3 linked regions of the Homo sapiens genome follow. The protein of the gene in region 1 interacts with the protein of each later gene in a biochemical or structural test. Each region holds a gene or a part of one and is shown in the gene's direction. Other genes may lie near its edges.

Region 1 (7,765 bases):
CCTCTCTACCAAAAAAATACAAAAGTTAGCTGGGCATGGTGGTGCGTGCCTGTAGTTCCAGCTACTTGGGATGCTGAGATGGGAGGATGGGCTTGAGCCCGGGAGGTTGTAGTGAGCCAAGATTGCACCACTGCACTCCAGCCTGGGTGAGAGCTAGACCCTGTTTCAAAAACAAACAAACAAACAAACAAACAAACAAAAAAGAAGACATCTTCCTCGTCTTTGCAGGCTCATTCCCTGGCCTAGCTGTCATGTATCCAGAAGGCGTTCACTAACGATTTATTGAATGAATGGGAAAAAACCCCCATCCTTTAATTTGTATATTGCCTTCAGAGTGTATTCACAAGTTGTGAGACTCACAATAATCCTGTGAAGAAGGAAGAGTGGGGATTCTGATCCCTATTTTGTTTTTACATGTATTTTTATGTTTTTAGAGACAGGGTCTCTCACTCTGTCTCCCAGGTTGGAGTGCAGTCGTGCAATCAGAGCTCACTGCAGCCTCAAACTCCTAGGCTCAAGTGATCCTCCCATCTTACCCTCCCGAGTAGCTAGGACTACAGGTGTGTGCCACCATGCCTGGCTAATTTAAAAAACATTATTATTACTATTATTATTATTATTTTTTATTTTTATTTTTTGTAGAGACGGCATCTCATCACATTGCCCAGGCTGCTCTCGAACTCCTGGCTTCAAGTGATGCTCCTGCCTTGGGCTCCCAAAATGTTGAAATTATAGGTGTGAGCTACCATGCCCTGCCTGACCCCATTTTATTGTTGTTGTTTTTTTTTGAGATGGAGTCTAGCTCTGTCACCTAGGCTGGAGTGCAGCAGCGAGCTCTTGGCTCATGGCTCACTGCAACCTCTGCAGCCCAGGTTCAAGTAATTCTCCTGCCTTAGCGTCTCAAGTAGGTGGGACTACAGGCGCATGCCACCAAGCCTGGCTAATTTTTATCTTTTTTTTTTTTTTTTTGAGACAGAATCTCGCTCTGTCGCCAGGCTGGAGTGCAGTGGCATGATCTCGGCTCACTGCAACCTCTGACTCCCTGGTTCAAGCAATTCTCCTGCCTCAGTCTCGCAGGTAGCTGGGATTACAGGCACATGCCACCACGCCCAGATCATTTTTGTATTTTTAGTAGAGAGGGGGTTTTGCCATGTTGGCGAGGCTGGTTTCTAACTCCTGACCTCAGGTGATCTGTCTGCCTCCGCCTCCCAAAGTGCTGGGATAACAGGCATGAGCCCCTGCGCCCGCCCCGACCCCATTTTAGACCTGAGAAAAATAAGGGTCAGAAAGGTTAGGTAACAAGTGAAAAGATATAAAGCCCTGGCCCCCTGGTTCCATATCCACTCCTCTCTGCAGTCAGACACTGCTCTATAGTATCTCTTCCAAACACCACATTGTTAATGTTCAGAAAAGAATGTTAAGAAGTTCCAAAAGATCTTAATTAAGAAAAAAATAAGCCTCTGCAGGAGCCGAAGGGACTGAGCACTTTGGCAATTTGGAGATGGCTAATGACGGTTCTTACACAGTTGTTGGGGGTAGGGAGAGCATTCTGGGACAGTCTGACAGAGGAAGTCACTAGACTTCTAACTTTAGTAAACAGGTTCTCTAGCTTGGAAGTAGAACTGGTAGCTCAGCATTTACTGGGCTAGAAAACTTAGGAAGTTTCAAAGGGCACTGTAAATCAGGTGAAGGCTGACTATTTTGGTTTATAGCTTATATTATCTGAGAAAGAGCTATCAGAAAGGTAGGTTATTGAATGATCATAGCTTTCCCACAGTAGTCAACTTAAAATATTGTGTTCCTTTTTGTGACAGAAATTCTGAAACATGAGCTGGTATGCTGGCGAGTGCCTACAATCCCAGGTACTTGGAGGGGTTGAGGCAGGAGGATCCCTTGGGCCCAGCAGCTTGAGTCCAGCCTGGGCAACATACTGAGAGCCCATCTCCAAAAAGAAAACCATTCTCAAACATGCATGAAATGTAAGAAAATAAACCCCTATGACACATCATTTGGCTTCAAAAATTATCAATATTTTGCCATTCTTATGTGCTTGACTTTTTTTTTTTTTGAGACAGAGTCTCACTCTTTAGCCCAGGCTGGAGGGCAGTGGTGTGATCATAGCCTACTGTAGCCTCCAACTCCTGGGCTTAAGCAATCCTCCCACCTGAACCTCCAGCTGGGACTACAGACTCACGCCACCACACCCATCATATTTTTACATTTTTAGTAGAGATGAGGTCTCCCTTTGTTGCCCAGGCTGGTCTAGAACTCCTGGGCTCAAGCAATCCTCCCACCTGAGCCTCCAGGTTACATGGGACTACAGACTTACTCCACCATGCCCATCTAATTTTCACATTTTTAGTGGAGATGAGGTCTCCCTATGTTGCCCAGGCTGGTCTAGAACTCCCGGGCTAAAGCAATCCTCCTGTCTCCACCTCTCAAAGTGCTGGGATTATGGGCTTGTACAGCCTGGAGTGCAGTGGCACCTTCTTTTTTTTTTTGAGACGGAGTTTCACTCTTGTTGCCAAGCTGGAGTGCAGTGGGATGATCTCGGCTCACTGCAACCTCCGCCTCCTGGGTTCAAGTGATTCTTCTGCCTGAGGTTCCTGAGTAGCTGGGATTACAGGCATCCACCACCACACCCAGATAATTTTTTGTATTTTTAGTAGAGATGGGGTTTCACCATGTTGGCCAGGCTGGTCTCGAACTCCTGACGTCAGGTGATTCACCTGCCTCAGCCTCCCAGAGTGCTAGGATTATAGGCGTGAGCCATTGTGCCCAGCCCAGTGGGCACCTTCTTAACTCCTTGTAGCCTGGAACTCCTGGGCTAAAGCCATCCTCCTGTCTCAGCCTCTCGAGTAGCTGGGACTACAAGGGTACGCCACCACACCTGGGCTAATTTTTAAAACTTTTGGTAGAGACAGAGCCTCACTATGCTGGCTAGCCTGTGCTTGACTTTTAAATATGTGTTTGTGTAAGGCTTTCTTTAAAAGCTATTAACTATACTATTTTAGCAAATATACATGGGAAATTATCAAGGAACAATAAAATGATCTTGTTCCAAGCACCATGAACTTGGAGCCTTTCATTTTTTTTCATTCAGGGTGGATATGAAGAGCAGCTGCTGACCTTGTTAAGGTAGCCACAGAAATGACTGAAGACTTAGAGGTGGGAGTACACAAGCTTGGAACAAGATTTTGTTCATTCATTCCTACAGCCATTCAACCAGCATATTCTGGGCACTTCTCATGCACACTGGCCATCCACCAGGGAGACAGGCCATGCTTAGACATAGGCTTATTGCAAATCATGTTTTATCCTTTCTTGGCTCTAAGACTGGACAAGTTCTGCCTTTCAGCTTCACCTTCCTCATCTATAAAGTAAGGATAACCTTGAATGGGGCACTGATAGAATTAAAAGTGAGATAATTGGTCGGGCGTGGTGGTACATGCCTGTAATCCTAGCACTTTGGGAGGCCACGGTGGGAGGATCACTTGAGCCTAGGAGTTTGAGACCAGCCTGGGCAACAAAGTGAGAAATTATCAAGGAACAATAAAATGATCTTATTACAAAGAAAACCAAATTCTCAAACATGCATGAAATATGAAGAAAATAAACCTCCATGACAATCATTTGGCTTCAAAAATTATCAGTATTTGAACTTGGAGCCTTTGATTTTGATTTTTGCATCTCTACAAAAATTACAAAATATGAGCCGGGTGTGGTGGCGGGTGCCTGTAGTCCTAGCTACTTAAACTGAGTTGGGAGGATTGCTTGAGCCCTGGGAGGTCGAGGGTGCAATGAGCCATAATCGTGACACTGTGTGTGAGACTGCCACACACACACACACACACACACACTAGTGAGGCTACGCACTCAGAAATGCACATGAACATCACTGGTATTCTGGAACCCACGTGTCGTTTGCCACTGTTATCTGTTAGGCTTTAGGGCTTGACGACAGAAATCATCAGGCAGTCTCTCTTTCCTCTTATATTCCTTTCCCAATCTAAGGGGGCAGCAAAAAGCTCAGAGGTCCACCGTAGCATGCAACATGTGAGATGCCTAAAGCCCGCCCCCATCGACGACAGCATTCATCCATCTCCCGAATTCATCTGGGTCATACTCTCGAGTTACCCGGCTTTCTTGAGGTCTTGCAGCTCTACAAGGATAATCTGTGGCTAAACTTTGCTGTCGTCCAAGGTCAAATGTTTGGCTCACAGGTTGAAGAGCCTCCCATGGCACCGTCGTTTGGTCCTGAGAAGGGAAAGGCGCCCAGGGGGCGGGCTGCTAGAGCACGAGGCAGCTGTCTCCCAGTCTTCCCAAACCCGTAGCCGAGGGGGCGTTTCTGCGGCGCAGGGGCGGGCACAGCCGACGCCTCCCTGCTCCACCTTCTGTGTCGGCGCCTAGACTCGGATAGTGAATTTCGGAAAGTTTCACTCGGGTTCGTGCACGTGGGCACCTCCGGACCCGGCCTCCTTGCCGCGCGCTCTGCTACCCTCTCCATCCAGCGGCGCAGGCGGCCCTCGCCTCACCCCTGGGCGTAGCTCTGGGCTCCCTTTGGCGTCGCCAGCTTCGCCTCCTCCCGCCGCGTCTCCTCCCGCCGCGTCACCCGTCGGTCCCGGCCGCGCTCGCACGCGGTGCGCAGCTCCCGGGCTCCAGGCGGCGGCGCGTAGCGGGCGCCCCCGAGGCGGCGGGCCTGAGAGGCGGGGACGGGGCGTGCCGCCGGCGCCCGGCTCCCGGAAGCGGCTGCTTCACAGGCTCCAGCCGAGCGGACAGGCGTGGCGGCCGGAGCCCCAGCATCCCTGCTTGAGGTCCAGGAGCGGAGCCCGCGGCCACCGCCGCCTGATCAGCGCGACCCCGGCCCGCGCCCGCCCCGCCCGGCAAGATGCTGCCCGTGTACCAGGAGGTGAAGCCCAACCCGCTGCAGGACGCGAACCTCTGCTCACGCGTGTTCTTCTGGTGAGTGTCCCCGCCCGAAACAGGTCACCCTGCAGCCGCTGGCGCCGCGGACGCACTCTCCCGGGGCCGCGCCCGATGCTGCCCAAGCCCTCTGCGGCTGGGGGCGAGGGGAGCGCTTTCCTACGCCACGCGGTCCACGCCGGGGCTTTCTGCTGCGGGTGGCGCCGCCCCCACGCCGGCCGCGTGGTCCCTGCCTGCGCCCCGGGGCGCGGCGCAGGGGGACGCGGGGACGCGGGGCCAGTGGCTTTGCTACTGGAGGCCCTGCGGGCCCTTAGGGCTCGGGGGAGGAGGAGCAGGAGGTGGGGAGGCGGGGAACCCAGGCTGCCGAAAGGGGGAGTCTCTTGCCCAGCGGGAGAAGCGACTGCACCCCTTACACGCCCACCCTTCGCTGGCTCCCGCCTCCTGCTCTGGGACTCGCAGTCTCCTGAACTCAAACGCACCTTTTCCTTTCTTTTTAAGTAAGCAGCTTACGAACAGTTTCCTTTATCTGATCTCAGCCAAAGCCTAATTAGTGTCCTGGACCTATGCCATCTCCCAGTAGTGTCCCCACCCCTTCCGATATTCCTTACGAGACAGCTCGATCCAACTCCACGTCCCGTTGTACCTCTCTGTGTCCCGGTGTCTCTGTATCTTTTGTCTCAGTGACCAGGGCTCTCCTTTTGCCTCTTTGTGGGAATCTCACTGTGTGTCCATGTGGGTCGTGGTACCTAGTTATGGCAAGTTTCATGTGGGTAAAATAACACTATTATTATTTTTCATTTATGAATGGGGACCCTGTTCTTGAACAAGATTTTCCAGGATTTGCTTTTAACTGGGACATGCACCGCCACGACTGGAGTCTGTCTTTGACCAGCTTCTTTCCCCTGTTTCCAATACTTTCACTTCCACGTAGGAGGACAGCTCGGAGGTGGGGTCCCTGGAATCGCTAACCTTCAGAGAGGTGATCCATGGTCTTGATGCAGGTGGTTCCTACCAGGAGTTCTACCTTCTTAAAACCACCCCAGGGCTCCTGAGCTGGGAGGGCCCACAGCCCTACCCATTTTGTGCAAGGAAACAAACGGAGAAAGACTCGGGTGACAGTAGTAACTAAAATTTCCATCTTGGCCTGGCGCGGTGGCTCACGCCTGTATCCCTGCACTTTGGGAGGCAGAGGTGGGTGGATCACGAGGTCAGGAGTTCGAGACCAGCCTGGCTGACATGGTGAAACCCCGTCTCTACTAAAAATACAAAAATTAGCCGGGTGTGGTGGAGCACGCCTGTAATCCCAGCTACTCAGGAGGCTGAGGCAGGGGAATTGCTTGAACCCAGTAGGCGGAGGTTGCAGTGAGCTGAGATCGCCCCACTGTACTCCAGCCTGGGTGACAGAGTGAGACTCCGTCTTGGGGGAGTGGCGGGTGTGTGTGGGGGAATTCCGTCTGCTAACTACATAAGCCTGAACCTTTGAAGGGCTTCAATCTCACTTGGATGATTATTAGATCTTCTGTTTCTTGACCTCTGCCGCCTCATCTTTCCCACATGTTGATATTGCCTTTTATTATGGGACAACCTAGGGTGGGGGTCTCCAATTTTTTGGGTTCCCTGGGCCACACTGGAAGAATTGTCTTGGGCCATACATAAAATACACTAACACTAATCATACACTAACACTAATGATAGCTGATGAGCTAAAAAAAAATCGCAAAAAAAAATCTGATGTTTTAAGAAAGCTTACGAATTTGGCAGCCCATGGGCCTCAGGTTGGACAAGCTTGACCTAGGGGATTCCAAGAGGATGAGTCGCTTACTCTTGTTTCGATTGTGGTACACTCAGTGGGTGTAGGAACTTCTCTTGGTTGTTTGGCGGCCTTTCTCTTAAGGAGAGGGGCACGTGGAGGAGGAAGGAATATGGGTGTGGTTTCTGCAAATAATAACTTGAGGTAGACAAATGGTCTCCTCAACTTCAGGCAGGGCAAGGAACTTTTTTTTTTTTTTTTTGAGACAGGATCTTGCTTTGTGCAAGCTGTGACCCAGGCTGGAGGGCAGTGACACATTCATAGCTTGCTGCAGCCTCCAACTCCTGGGCCGAAGCAATCCTCCTGCCTCAGCCTCCCGAGTAGCTGGGGCTCCAGGTGTGTGTCACCATGCCCGGATAATAAAAAAAAATTTTTTTTGTAGAGATAGGGCTCTCTATGTTGTTGCTCAGGCTGGTCTTGAACTCCTGGGCTCAAGTGTTCCTCCCGCTTCGGCCACCCAAAGTCTGGGATTACAGATGTGACTCCTGCCTCCTTATATTTTTCTCCCCCTGCATTTTCAAAATGTAGGTGGCAGGGAAATAGGAAGTGATGCGCTCCCATTGATGACTTGAGTAGGTGTTCATTTCCGGTTTCCCTGATGGAAGGGAAGGAGCTAGTAGACCTCTGTTTTACTCCGAGGACACTTAAGCTGAGAGTGGTTAAGTTGCCTGGACTCACACAACAATCAAGTGTCAGAGCAGGCTCCAAAGCTGGGCAGACTGGCTCCCCAGCCTCTTTGGAGCTGCTGTACTGAGCTGCTTCCAGTTCAGGTGCTGTCGGAAATGCATGGAGAAGGCGCTCCCTGTTCTGGAAGGCTAGAGTTTCTCAAGGGAAATTCTTAAAGTACCTGCAGTTGGAGATGATGCATGTGTAACAACTATTAGTGTGCTTTAGGGCAGCTGTTCTCAAAGCATAGCACTCAGAGCAGCAGCATCGGCATCACTTGGGAGATTCTAAGAGATGCAGATTCTCCAGCATCCACTCTGGACTGATTCAGTAAAACTGGAAACACTGGGTGTGTGGGTGGGGGTG
Region 2 (7,027 bases), on another chromosome or scaffold:
CTTAGTGGCAACTAGAGAAGGTTTGCTTTTGGTCTGAGGTGGTCACTGGTTTCTGAGGTGCCAAGCCTGGTTGGAGGCACAGATAGTCAGCATTCATAAAGCTGCGTAGAACCATGGGGTCCCAATGGGGACATGAAACTAAATGATCCAGAAAAGCCCGTGGACTTTCCACCAGTTGTATTGAATACATACCTGATGGTGTGAGAATACAGAAAGGGGCTGTGGTGCCTGCTCTTAAGAAAGCTTATCTTGGCTGGGCATGATGGCTCACGCCTGTAATCCCAGCACTTTGGGAGGCTGAGGAGGGTGGATCACTTGAGGTCAGGAGTTTGAGACCAGCCTGGCCAACATAGTGAAACCCCATCTCTACTAAAAATACAAAAAGTAGCCGGGTGTGGTGGCGGGTGCCTTCAATCCCAGCTTCTCAGGAGGCTGAGGCAGAAGAATTGCTTGAATCCAAGTGGCAGAGGTTGCAGTGAGCCGAGATCGCACCACTGCACTCTAGCCTGGACCACAAGAGCAAGATTCCATCCCTCCTGGCCAAAAAAAAAAAGCTTATCTTGTTGGGGACACACGACATGGATCCTGAAGCTCCTCTATAGTCTACTGGACTGAGTCCAGTGCTCACAGTCTAACCTACTTCTTTTTTTCAACATATAACTGTGCTCTGATCTTTCTGAACCATTCACCATTCTGGGAATGCATCTCCTGCTGTTCCTTCTGCCTGGGATGACTTCCTCTTCCTAGTCTGACTACTTGTATTTCCAGAATACATTCTACACCTCAGGCCTGGGAGGCAGGGTAGATGGTGGAAGGAATCCAGACTCAACTGGGTTTGAATCCAGACTCTGCTTATCCAAATAGTCAGGGGAAACCAAGTTAACTTTTCAGAGTCTCTTTTCTTTTTCCTTGTAAAATGGCCCATCAGGATTGAATCAGAACCCATAAAAAGTACCTAGGCTGGTTCCTAATCCTAGTAGGGAGCTCAATAAATATATATAACAATAAGAAAGCTTTTGTATTTAAATATTCCAGCACCCACAACGTTGTTCAGCAGTTAAACTTCATAACTCTCCCCACTGGACTCCAGGCTCTTTCAGGGCAGGACGGTAGCTATTCTGGGTTGAGCCCTGATACCTGCCTCGCAGTAGGTATTACATAGAACTTGTTAAGTACATGAGCGATAACTGAAATTCAGAAGATGAAATGATACCTTCAGACTGTGGTGGTCATGGAAGGATTCGTATATAATCTAAAATTTGAACTGAGCCTTGAAAATGGTAGGTCTTAAATTCGTTCACTTGGAACAAATGTTTACTTAGCACGTACTATGAGTAAGTGCTCATGGGGCATGAGCAAAGGGCAGGCTCGTGTGGGTGACCATGCATAGACCAATTGGGGCTTGCTGAGGAGCTGGGGGCCTGAGGTAGGGCTGGATTATGCTGAGCCTCAGTGCCTGAGCAAGAAGCTTGAACTTCTTTTTTTTTGAGACGGAGTCTTGCTCTGTTGCCCAGGCTGGGGTGCAGTGGCACGATCTTGGCTCACTGCAAGCTCCGCCTCTTGGGTTCACACCATTCCCCTACCTCAGCCTCCCGAGTAGCTTGGACTACAGGCGTCCGCCACCACACCCAGCTAATTTTTTGTATTTTTAGTAGAGATGGGGTTTCACTGTGTTAGCCAGGATGGTCTCGATCTCCTGACCTCGTGATCCGCCTGCCTTGGCCTCCCAAAGTGCTGGGATTACAGGCGTGAGCCACTGCACCCGGCCGAGCTTCTTTTTCTTGAATTATTATTATTATTATTTTTGAGATGGTAGTATAATAAAACCAGGGTTAGAAAGTTTGTCTCGAGGCAAGACTCTTGTAGTAGTTTAAACATACCAAAAAAAAAGTGGGGGGGTAGAAATGCAAGTTCAAAAAGTCACAAAATGTCGATTTGGGGAAAGCACTTGTCTCAGCTGGCACTCAAGGCGGTTGAGCTGTCTATCAGCAGCATGAGGGTGTCCTCTCTCTGTGGGTGCCTCTGTTTCCACACAATATTGGCTCTATCCCTCTCCCAACTCATAGAACTCTTAGATAAGCAATCAAACTGTGAAAGGCCTTGAACTCCAGCCCAGAGTCTTGCCATATAGGACAAAGTATTGTTTATGGTGGCTGGAGGTAGGGAAGGTACTTAGTATCAGCAGGCCAAATGAACTTTGGGATAAGTAGATTCCATTCTTGATCATAAATGAGAAATAAAAACTACTCAGTGGGTCTGGGATCACTCTTCTCCAGATAATTCTCAATGGAATGGATTTCATTGATTTCTCATATTTGAAATTTATCCCTGGCTAAGACCAAACAGTAACTATCACAATGGGAAAGTACACTAGGCAAATACATATTTTAGAATCTTGCTTCTCCTTCTATTTTTGATATTAATTATTTAAAGTAAATATACTTGAGTATTTGAATTTCCATATGCTTTGCTTTTCAGAGGAGAAATCCAGGCAGCCTTAAATATGATCTGCATAAAAATATAGGATCTGTTCTAGGTAAAATATATTTGAAGAAGGGTGAAATTGAGTTGTCTTTATCTCTTCCTTGCTAGAGACATCTGTCAGTAGCAGCTCAGATACAGCAGGATTTTTTTGCTTATGCTGTTGGAAGGAACAGCATGTGCCAAGGCTCTGTGGCAGGCTCTGAAGGAGGCCAGCCATGGCTGGTGTGAGGCATGAAGCCTTGGAGTCAGGGCTGATGCCTGTAGGGAATTCTCAGCCTGTCTATAGTTGCTGGCTTAATGTTGCACAGTCTCCACCAACTGTATTTTCCTAACAAAAGTCTAGTGGGTTTGTTTTCTTCTTTCTTGTTACACAGATGCACACAAGTGCTGCAAGAACAGCATTCCTCAAAGTGCACACTGTGGTCAAGCGTCCTGAGAATGTGGCTTTTTTCTTGCTAAAGTTCAGAGTGTTTTATAGGCAAGCATGGAGTTCAGTGGAAAGCAAGTAATGTCTAGGTTTAATGTTGCCGGAGAGACCCTGCCCTTTCTTTTCCTTATGCCTCAACAAAACAGAAGTAACTTACTCTATGGTTTCATACTAGATTATACAATCAGATACCCTTCCACAGTCAGAGTAACTAGGGTTAAACATTCCTCACCAGCAGTCCTGCTAAGTGTTTGTTTTTTTTTTGAGATGGAGTCTCGCTCTGTTGCCCAGGTTGGAGTGCAGTGGTACTATCTTGGCTCACTGCAACCTCCACCTCCTGGGTTCAAGCAATTCTCCTGTCTCAGCCTCCCGAGTAGCTGGGACTACAGGCGTGTGCCACCACACCCAGCTGATTTTTGTATTTTTAGTAGAGACGGGGTTTCACCATATTGGTCAGGCTGGTCTCAAACTGCTGACCTCAGGTGATCCTCCTGTCTCAGCCTCCCAAACTGCTGGGATTACAGGCATGAGCCCCCGCGCCCAGCCCCTGCTAAGTTTTTAGTGTTTAGTGTTTTCATGGATTGAGTGTTGGTTATGTAAGTGCCTTGTGGGGAGAGGCTCTGTTGTCTTCGTGGTGTGATACTGACGGCATAATTGATTCCTAGTTACTATTAGATAAGGTGATGGTGGGTTCAGGTGTAGATGACTATATTTATGGAATAATCCTGCCACTTCTAAGTCCCAGACCTTGGAAGATGAGCAGAGATGACAGTACCTGGGCTGTTTCTTTCCTGATGGTATTTCATTGCATCTGGCCATCGCTGGTGACAGCCCCCTTCTGTCTTTCTCCCTCCAAGCAGAATGCTGTTTATCCCATGCCCTCTCTCTGATCTTTTGGCATTTCAGTGATGCTGTCTGGTGAGTGAGCCTATTCACTAGCTACTCCTTGGCTATGAAGGTCCCTCTCTGGGCCAGGTATCTATAGCTAAGGTAATGCTTCACTCACTCCATCTTCTCCACTGCTGTCTGTTCCTTGGGTCCCTATGTTCACTTCTGTTAGAGCTTATCCACTCCAGGCGGTGGAACTCTCTGGCCAGCTTAGTCTTGAAATTCTGTTAAAGCTCCCTGGACTCTTTTACCTCCTTGATACACAGCATTTGGTTCTATTTTGTAATTCCCTGGCTTTTAGACTTACAGGATACTTTTGAGTCCAGAGTTTATTATTTGAGCTTTCTTTCATGGGGAACAAAATCTCCAGCCCTGACTTTTCAGCAGCTAAAATTAGCTTCGCAGAAGTGATCTGGACTGAGTAGATAGAGAATCCCTTGCCTGATCATTGAGGTGCCTGCCCATTCTTAGTCTGTAATTTCTTCCTGTCTTCTGCAAAAAGAAAATCAGGAAAAATTTCAAATATTCTCACAGAAAATGGGATTCCCATTGCATCAGGCGTTTCATCAGAGGACAGGAAAGAGTAACTTGGATGGAGTGGACTTCTATGCTCCAGAAACTGTGCTGAGAGGCCTTGCATGCTCTACTGTGAGCCATCTTCACGGCATCCACATGTGCTTCCTATTCTAGGGGTATTCTATCTTCAGCTCAAAATTAAGGAACTCACCCATGTTCTTACAGTTAACAAGCGGTGAAGCCAGGATTAAAAACTAGGTTTGGCTCTAAAACCCTTGCTCTTTCTACTCTACCTTACTCAGAATCGATCCTGGGGGAAGATGGAAACAAAAATACAGATTCCCTTTTGTATACACATCTGGCTCCTTTAGAATTGCATCATGGGGAACTATTCTGCTCTAAAGATCTTTTCAGATAACTTTTCCTGTGTCAACCCACTAACTTTTGAAACTGCTTCCACAGTCCCTTCTTCTTTCTTCCCAACTCATGCTGCTAAGCTAGTCCCTGAAACATTTCATCTTCCCAATCCCAAACTCCTAGCTCCTCTTATCTGCCAATTCATGTTGGCCCCACAGTCTGACATTCCAGCTCTGTGCCCCTTGTAAATCTAGAAATCCTCACATCCTACTCTTATGGGCTTGTTAGTTTGAGATGGAGTCTTGCTGTGTCACTGAGGCTGGAGTGAGTGGTACAATCTTGGCTCACTGCAACCTCCACCTCCCGGGTTCAAGCGATTCCTGTGCCTCAGCCTCCTGAGTAGCTGGGATTACAGGCACGCACAACCACGCCCAGCTAATTTTTAAATTTATTTTATTTTTTTTTAAATTTGAGATGGAGTTTCACTCGTTGCCCAGGCTGGAGTGTAATGGCGTGATCTCAGCTCACTGCAACCTTTGCCTCCTGGGTTCAAGTGATTCTCCTGCCTCAGACTCCTGAGTAGCTGGGATTACAGATGCCCACCACCAAGCCTGGCTAATTTTTGTATTTTTAGTAGAGACAGGGTTTCGCCAAGTTGGCCACGCTGGTCTCAAACTCCTGACCTCAGGTGATCCGCCTGCCTCGGCCTCCAAAAGTGCTGGGATTACAGGCATGAACCACTGTACCTGGCCTTTATTTTTTATTTTTTGAGGCAGACTCTCGTTCTGTCGCCCAGGCTGGAGTGCAGTGGTGCAATCTTGGCTTACTGCAGCCTCCGCCTCCCGCCTCCCGGGTTCAAGCAATTCTCCTGTCTCAGCCTCCGGAGTATATGGGGTTATAGGTGCCTGCCACCACACCTGGCTAATGTTTTTTGTGTTTTTAGGAGAGATGAGGTTTCACCATGTTGGCCAAGCTGGTCTCGAACTCCTGACCTCAAGTAATTCACCCGTCTCGGCCTCCCAAAGTGCTGGGATTATAGGTGTGAGCCACTGCGCCTGGCCTACCCTTATGTTTTAAAAATATGTTAGCCCCAACTTAGGGTAAAAGTTACCACTTTCCTTTTCTATTCTTGATGTATATTACTGTAAGAAAAATCCATGGGAACCCATGCTGCTGCAAGTTTATTATATATATATATTTTAACCTAAGTTGTTTCTTAGACATTTTAATTCAATTCATTGACTCTTTGTAGTGAGCTAATGCTGTGGCCATTAGTTCACTGTCTTAGTTCACCGCCAGCTCGGGGGCTCCATTCTCTTTTGGTTTACATAGAATTTCTTTTAAGTTTGAAATAGCTGTCAGTTTTTTTAAATGGGGACATTTTATGTAAATCTAGATTTCCAGAGTCTCTTGAAAATTGAAAGGTGGCATGCTGGCCTCCTCTTCCTCAGGCAGTTGTCTTCTCATGAAAAGCAGCAGCTTTTCCTCCGTCCCCTCTCGGCCACCTTCGCTGATTTACCTGTTTGACCCTAGAGATTATTTTTCTGTGGTACTTTTGCTCCATATTCTCCAAGTTCCTGATTTTTGTCAGCTACTTCGTAGGAGAGATTGAGGCTGAGGTAAGTGACCTTGTTTTCTTCTTTATCATATTTTTTTCTACTTCTCTTCTGCCCCTGGAGAAGAGGTATTTCCTCTCACCAAGGCTAACCCCAGTTTCCATGTTCTCCATATCATCTCTTGATACAGAAACATGCTGATCGTTTCCTTAATGTTAAAAATAAAAACATCCAGGCTGGGTGCAGTGGCTCATGCCTGTAATCCCAGCACTTTGGGAGGCTGAGGCGGGCGGACCACAAGGTCAGGAGTTTGAGACCAGCCTGACCAACATGGTGAAATCCTGTCTCTACTAAAAAAAAAAAAAAAAAAAAAAAAAAAAAAAAAAAATTAGCTGGGCATGGTGGCGGGTGCCTGAAATCCCAACTACTCAGGAGGCTGAGCAGGAGACTTGCTTGAATCTGGGAGGCAGAGGTTGCAGTGAGCTGAGATCGCACCACTGCACTCCAGCCTGGGTGACAGAGCGAGACTGTCTCAAAAAATAAAATATCAATATTCGTTGCTTCTGTTACTTGGTATCCACTTGCTTCTTAGTGTTTTATCAGGCCCAGACTTCCATTTTCTGAATGTCAGTGGCATTTTCTGTTTTCATTCTCTCTACCTCTTAGCATTATTTGGCATTGTTAACTATCCCATCTTAAAATTCTTCTTTTAGTTTTGATGACACTAAAATTTTGGCATTTTGTTTTCTGATTATTCCTTTTTGCTTCCTCTTTCTTTTCTCTCTTTCTCTTTCTCTCT
Region 3 (6,939 bases), on another chromosome or scaffold:
GCTGCTTCAGCTCTGGCCTCCCCTTGCGCAGGCCAAGGTGCTCAAAGCTCTGTTCTCGCGGGGCTGGCGGGGGGGCGTTCAGTGATGTTCCCTGGTGCTTGCCTGGTCCAAGATGGGGAGACAGAGCCCATGAGAGGCTTCTCTGCCTCCCCCACTCCACACCCTTATTCCCCTGCAGCGCAACCAGGCCTAGGGCGCCAGCCTCACCCCAGTCCCCACCCCACAGGACTGGATCGAGTGGAAGGAAGCCAGATGGGCAGGATCCTGGGGCAACTCCTCGCACGATGCAATGCCACCAGTTCCGGCCAGGTGGCGCTGCGCGGCTACTGTTCCGGGCGGTAGCGTCCGACTCGCGCCTCCAGCAACGGGCGGGGCTAGAGCCGCAGTGGGCGGGGCCACGACGGGTGGGCGGGGTCGCCCCGTCGGCGGCAGCGGTTTCCTGCCTCTCCCCACTCTTGGGTCGTCGCAGTCCCCCGGCCTTCTCTCTCTGTCTGGTCTGTGGGTCTCTGTTGGTCACCTCCTTCTGTCGCGCTGGCTCCGCCTGCTCCAGTTTCAGAATGTAAAGAGAGGCATGGTGCAGCCTGAGGGAAGAGGCCCTAGGCGCGGTCTGGTTATGCTTGAAGGGCCATTAATGTCCATTAGGAAGCCCCGCCTGCCTGAGCAGCTCTGGACCATTACCGGGAGTCGGAATAGTGGCCCCACCCCCAGACAGGGCCCCAGGCCACGGCCACACCCCGGAGCCCCGGTCCAGGTCCAGGCTCGGGCTCCCTGAGATCGCTGGGACCTTGCTGGAGGGATGCGGGTTCAAGGCCCGAAGGAAAGGTCCTGCCAAAACAGGAGTGCACGGGCGGCCCCCACCCCGGTGGACCCCCCACCGACAGCCCAGGGGAACGGCTGAGACCTGCTCTCCCTCTGCTGGATAGGACCCACGCCTGGGTAGCATGCTGGCAGGCGTGGGTTAAGGGGGTTGGGTGGAGAGTTGGGGGATCTCCCAAGCCTCTGATTGCCTCTGCCTTGACTTTCTTCCCTCCTGCTGGGGCCCGGGGAGCCCACGTCACCCACACCCCATCTGCACCCCACAGAACCAGGAAAATAAAGTCCACCCTCCTCTCGATGCTGACCCTACTCCCTCCCGCCCACCTCCCTAGCCCTTTCTTCGAGACACCAAGCACTTTGCGGCCCCTGAACACCTTTGCCCAGGTGCTTCCCTTCGCCTTTCTCTGCCTCCAGCGCAGCACCCATACGGGCCAAGGTCAGCCTCGGACCAGGGCTGAGAGCTTCCGGAGGCTGGCTGGAGAAGAGGCCTGGGAGGGTTTGCCCCCGAGAGCTTCTAGGTCACCCTTCCTCGCCTGTTCCTCCAGGCCCCTGGACTCACTGTCCCCTCTCACTGACTCTGCACCTCCTCTGAAATCGTGACCTCTGGTTCCTCTCTGGCTGCCTCATTCCTCCTGCTCCCTGCTTTGCTAGGCCCACTTCCTTTGTTGCCCGGCCCTTTGCTACTCTGTTACCCTCCTCAGCTCCTTCATGGCTTTGGGGACTCTTTTGTTAACTCTGTAGCAGCAGTGTGTCCGGTGATATTTCCTTGGTTCCTGGCCCTGGTTGTGACCTCATGTCCCTTGTGGCCCCTCCCTCTGCCATGCTGTTCTCCATCCCATCTTTTTTTTTTTATTTGTTTTTAAATTATTTATTTATTGTTTTTGAGATGGTGTCTAGCTCTGTTGCCCAGGCTGGAGTGCAGTGACGCAATCTCAGCTCACTGCAACCTCCGCCTCCTGGGTTCAAGCGATTCTCCTGCCTCAACCTCCCCAGTAGCTGGGATTACAGATGCCCACCACCACGCCTGGCTAATTTTTTTTGTATTTTCAGTAGAGACGGGGTTTCGCCACATTGGCCAGGCTGGTCTCGAACTCCTGACCTCAGGTGATCCACCCACCTCGGCCTCCCAGAGTGTTGGGATTACAGGCGTGAGCCACTGCTCCGGCCCCTCAGCCCATCTTCAGTCACTGGGAGTAGGAATCAGCTGAGTCCTGGGCCAGGGAAGGATGGTGTATGCCCAAGGCTGATCAGGCGTCTGCCCCACCCAGGGCGGGTAAGGTCTGCAAGCCCCCTTACCCAGGGGACCTGGGGCTGCTGGAGTCTCCCATCCAGCCACCTCCCTCGACTCTAGTGTGGCCAGGAAGCTACAGCCTGCCAGGTTTTGGGTGGACCTGGTTGGTGTGGGATGACCCCCTAAGCCCAAACAGGTGTGGTATGTGGGGTGCGTGGTGGTGGGTCACACTGCCCACAGCCATCTTCACAGACTCCAAGGGTGGCAGCACCAGGCTGTGTCCAGGGAGGCCAGCCACAGGCCAGACAGGCAGCCTCTGGACATGCAGACAGAGAGATGGAAGCGGCCGGCCGGGCGGGAGCCTGAAGCAGCCTTACCCAGGAATTGCAGGGGTTGGGGTGGCGAGCAGTCGCGGCGCCTCAGCCTAAGTGGCTTTTAGGGGCAGCTGCCGGGATATGGGCACCCAGGGGGCCATGGCCCAGGAGGCTGCCCAGAGGCGAGCCCTGTGCTTGGGTGGGGGCAGGGGAGCCCAGCCCAGGGCCCCGGAGAGACGAGAGGGAGAGGAGGACTGCGCCAAGCCTGCTTCTACGGCTCACATGGGGAATTGCCTGGGCTGGCTGTGCCTGACCCCTGGGAACCAGGTATGTGCAAGGGGGCCTGGCTGGGCTGGGGAGGAGGGCAGACTGGGGCTGTGCCTGGACTCAGCTACCTTCCTATATTGGAGACAGAGGAAGAGCTGGGTGGTGAAGATAGCATGGACTCCGAATCTCACATCCCTGGGCCCAAATGGAGCTGAGGAGGCTTCGTGGGTCTTTTCCCTCTCCAGGCCTGTTTGCAGGTCTGTGAAGTGGCCGGTCCCCTAGGGTTGTTCCAGGTAAAATGCACTTAGGCCTAAATGATTTCACTGTGGTGGTGACTGTCCTGTTGGGGAAGGAGGGACACTCGTGCTTCAGGTAGAGGCTGAGGGACGTGGACGGCTGTGGGCAGGGGAGGGGAGGCCTGCTGCCTGCCTGTGGACACTGTGGAGCAGCGCCTGTGCACACCCAGAGCTTAGAGCCCAAATAATTCAGTGGAGTGTAGCCCATGTCAGGAGGTGGGTAGCAGGGACCCTCGAGACTCATATCCTTTTGTCACCCTGCAAAGTCACAGTCCAGGCCTGGGGTGGGCTGGGACACAAGTGAGGGGGCCGGCCCGGCCAAGGGAAAGAATGGCAGCAGGGCGTGGGAACCGACGCGGTGCAGATAGGCCGAACACGGTGGGTAGGCCAGGGAGTCTCCCAGCCACTGGCCCCCAGGATGCAGGGAGGGGCTGCTGCGTGTCACTTTTAAAGCCCTTTTTGCCTCCTGGGCCCTCCTGAGACTCTGCCCTGGGCCAGGGAGTCTCCCAGCCACTGGCTGGGAGGGATCCAGGTGAGACACAGCCGAGAGGAGACAGGCAAGGGGGTCCGGAAGGGCTTCCCGGGGAGGGTGGGGAGGGCTGTGGCCCTTGTTCTTACCCTTTGGCCCCTTTGTCGGGGTCCCTTGGCCTGGAGACCCTTTGTCCAACCCGTCGCCCACCTCAAGACCTGCCTCGATGCTGCGCATACAGTAGGTATCCAATAAATGTTCCTGGGATAGAAGGCAAAGGCGCTGGCACCAAGGCGGCTGCCCAGAGTAGGGGCGAGACAGAGAGGTCCCGGTGGTTAAGGGGTCCCCTAGCCCTGCCGCCTCCCCCTGCCCCGCCTCGGGCTGGCCGGGCGCGGAGGTAGGGGCCTGGCCGGGACGGCTGGGACTGGAGGCGGGGGCGGCCGGGCGGCGGGGGCGGGGAAGGGGCGGGCGCGGAGGCGGTGCCGCAGCCCGAGCCGGAGCCCGAGCCGGATCCCGAGGCGACGGGAGCCGAACAGGAGCCGCCGCTGAAGCCACCGCCGGGTGCCCAGCGCCGCCGCCGCCCCCGAGCTCCCCCGCGCCCCTGCCCGCGGGCGGCCGGTGGGCAGCGGGCGCCATGGCCGCGCCGGAGCCGCTGCGGCCGCGCCTGTGCCGCTTGGTGCGCGGAGAGCAGGGCTACGGCTTCCACCTGCACGGCGAGAAGGGCCGCCGCGGGCAGTTCATCCGGCGCGTGGAACCCGGTTCCCCCGCCGAGGCCGCCGCGCTGCGCGCTGGGGACCGCCTGGTCGAGGTCAACGGCGTCAACGTGGAGGGCGAGACGCACCACCAGGTGGGGGCCAGCGCTCGCCCCCGGCCCGCCGCCCCCTCCCCGAGCGCGTCCCCCTGGGGCGAGCAGGGGTCGCACGGGGGCCCGAGGGGGCTCCCGCGGGGAGGACGCGGACGTTGTCGGGAGGCAGCGGCCCGGCGCCTTCGGAGTCCCGGCGCAGGAAGCTCAGTCCTGCACGGGGGTGGGGGGGGGCATCCTGGCAGGGAGGGGCCCGCACTGCGGCTCCTGGCCGCTGGCCTCGCCCTTTGGTCGCGTTTTGGCCTCAGTGTGCCGTGAAGGAGGGTGTTGGGCCGCCTGGAGCCCCTCCGGAAAGGTGAAGACCTGGGTGCTTTTGCCTGGGTGTGTGTGTACACGTGTGCGTGTGAACACAGCTGGGCGTGTGTATGCAGGTCCCTTTGGGGTCAGCCATGTGTGCATGCGCCTGCCTGTGCGTACCCAGGAGGGGTCGCAGTAAAGGCATCAGTGTGTCTGCACCTGTGTGTGCTGTAGTGTGTGTGTGAGTATACAGGTCTGCACGTGTGCCTGTGTGTGTGCAGGTCTGGACTCCTGGGCGTATGGGAGCTGGGCTCTGTGTGTGTGCACGCCTGGCTAGTGTACTCATCACTGTCTGCAGGCCGGTGAGTCTTTGTGTCTGTACTCTAGTGTGTCCCAGCTGGTGTGTCTGGGACCGGGCTGAGTTGGTCATTGCTGGCAACCACATTCCTTAGCTACAAAGGCACTACTCCTCCTCAGAGGCTGCCTAGCCTGGCTGGGGTTACTGGCCGAAGCCTCCTGCCTCCTGGCTAAGGAGAACAGAGCCTTTTCTCTGTGGGTTCTGACCCCTGAGGTGTGTCTGTCTCCCACAGGCCAGGGACTCCCTCCAGACCCTGGTTGGGGTCCAGCGTCCACACACCCCTTTTCCTCCAGGTCCCCTGTCCCTCACAGCACCGATGAATCCATAACCTGTCTACATGGCTGGTCCTGGAACCTAGAGATTAGCAGGTTGGTTCAGCTGGACCTGGAGCTGGTCTCCTGTTTACCTGGTGCCTTGTCTGTCACTCTGTCGGCCGGCCCCATGCCTTCCACCCAGAGTGTCTGCTGTGTAAGGTTGTTTGCTGAAGAATGTGGGGATCAGGCCAGGGGCCTGGACCTGAGGGATTGAGGGTAGGGCTGCCAGGGCTGGGGCCAGGCTGCTGTTGGATAGTCACTGCCACCCTCGCCCTGGGAACACCTGCTTTTCCAAGGCCCTGTGGGGCTGGTCTCTGAGGACTGGACACACAGACCATGGTGGACTCTCCCCACTGCCCCAGGAGGGCAAGAGGGGCAGTTACTGCCCCATTTGACAGTTGAGGAAACTGATGCCAGAGATTGAGGGTAACTTGTCTGGGACACATAGTCAAGAAGCAGCTGGGCACTGGGTTCCTCTTGTCTCACTCTGGGTCATGGGGAGAGAGGAGGGCTGGGGGAAGATGGGCCTGGCTCAGTCCCTCCTATCTGTTCACCACCCCTGCTGAGCCCGGCAGCTGGTGGGGAGCCTTGTCCACCCTCCCCCAGGCCGCAGGTGGGAGTAGGGCTGCCCCTCTTCCTGCCCACTTCCCAGTGGGCACTGCTTTCTCTCCGCGGGTGTGCGCTGGCCCCCCGCGTGGTCCAGACACTTCACAGGCACCTGCACGCACACACCGACGGCCACCAAGCCACAGCTGTCCACAGGTGCACCTGCCTCTCCCCCTCGCCGGCTGCACCTGAATCCTGCTTCCCTGGCTGTGTGTGGGTGCCCGAGCCAGGAGCCCAGCCCTTCCCCTCTCTGCAGATCCAGAGGGAATGGGCCCATGGCCATGGCCTGGAGGTAGATATAAGGCCTAGGGTCAGGAGTTTAGACTCCCACACTGCACGGCAGAGAATGACGGGAATGGGCACAGACACACTCAAACTGGGGCCCAGGGAGACACACCTCTCCTTCAAACCTGGACGGAGACACAGACTTTGAAACAGATGGATGCATGCGCGCACAGGGACAGGCAGACTGAAAACCTGAAGGTCCACTGTGCACCATTTTTGTCACTTCCAGACAGGACTTACCCAGCGGCCCTATCCTGCAGCCCCTTCCCAGCCCCGCCTGGAGAAGACCCTGGGCTAAGGGCAAGGCTCTGGGAGCACCCTGAAGCCCTCACAGCCTGGGCCTCAGTGTCCGGAGCCTGAGTGCAGAGGGAGGGAGCCGCTGGAGTCCGGGGGTGGGGGGCGGGGCCGGCAGGCCTCTTGGTGCAGCCACCCGCCCATGCAGACCAGCCGCCTGTCCGCACGCCTGGGCCAGCCCAGAGTGGTGCCACTGCCCATGTGCTGCCCGGAATGTGGGCCACTGACCCGCTCCTATCGCCCATTCGCCCCAGGTGGTGCAAAGGATCAAGGCTGTGGAGGGGCAGACTCGGCTGCTGGTGGTGGACCAGGAGACAGATGAGGAGCTCCGCCGGCGGCAGCTGACCTGTACCGAGGAGATGGCCCAGCGAGGGCTCCCACCCGCCCACGACCCCTGGGAGCCGAAGCCAGACTGGGCACACACCGGCAGCCACAGCTCCGAAGCTGGCAAGAAGGTATGGCGGGCTTGGCCCACAGGGACCACCCTAGCCTCTCCCAGAGGCTCTCTCAGCTTTTGACGACGATCTTTGCCTTTGGTCACCTCCAGAAGTCTTGGTCTCTTCTGCCTTTTGGGGCTCCTTTTCTGCCCC

Evidence for each region.
Region 2: the proteins of ABCC4 (region 1) and PDZK1 form a complex in vitro, tested with the Homo sapiens proteins (2 studies listed by BioGRID and IntAct, with this or other methods).
Region 3: the proteins of ABCC4 (region 1) and NHERF2 form a complex in vitro, tested with the Homo sapiens proteins (2 studies listed by BioGRID and IntAct, with this or other methods).

Annotation. Positions count from the first base shown.
Region 1 is NC_000013.11:95,298,438-95,306,202, reverse strand, and holds the start of ABCC4 (ATP-binding cassette sub-family C member 4), read left to right. Parts: upstream 1-4,751; 5' UTR 4,752-4,888; coding exon 4,889-4,962; exon of another isoform or gene 4,963-5,252; intron 5,253-7,765. UniProt on the Homo sapiens protein: ATP-dependent transporter of the ATP-binding cassette (ABC) family that actively extrudes physiological compounds and xenobiotics from cells.
Region 2 is NC_000001.11:145,697,353-145,704,379, reverse strand, and holds part of PDZK1 (Na(+)/H(+) exchange regulatory cofactor NHE-RF3), read left to right. Parts: intron 1-7,027. UniProt on the Homo sapiens protein: A scaffold protein that connects plasma membrane proteins and regulatory components, regulating their surface expression in epithelial cells apical domains.
Region 3 is NC_000016.10:2,022,979-2,029,917, forward strand, and holds the start of NHERF2 (Na(+)/H(+) exchange regulatory cofactor NHE-RF2), read left to right. Parts: upstream 1-3,923; 5' UTR 3,924-4,027; coding exon 4,028-4,240; intron 4,241-5,197; exon of another isoform or gene 5,198-5,218; intron 5,219-6,603; coding exon 6,604-6,804; intron 6,805-6,939.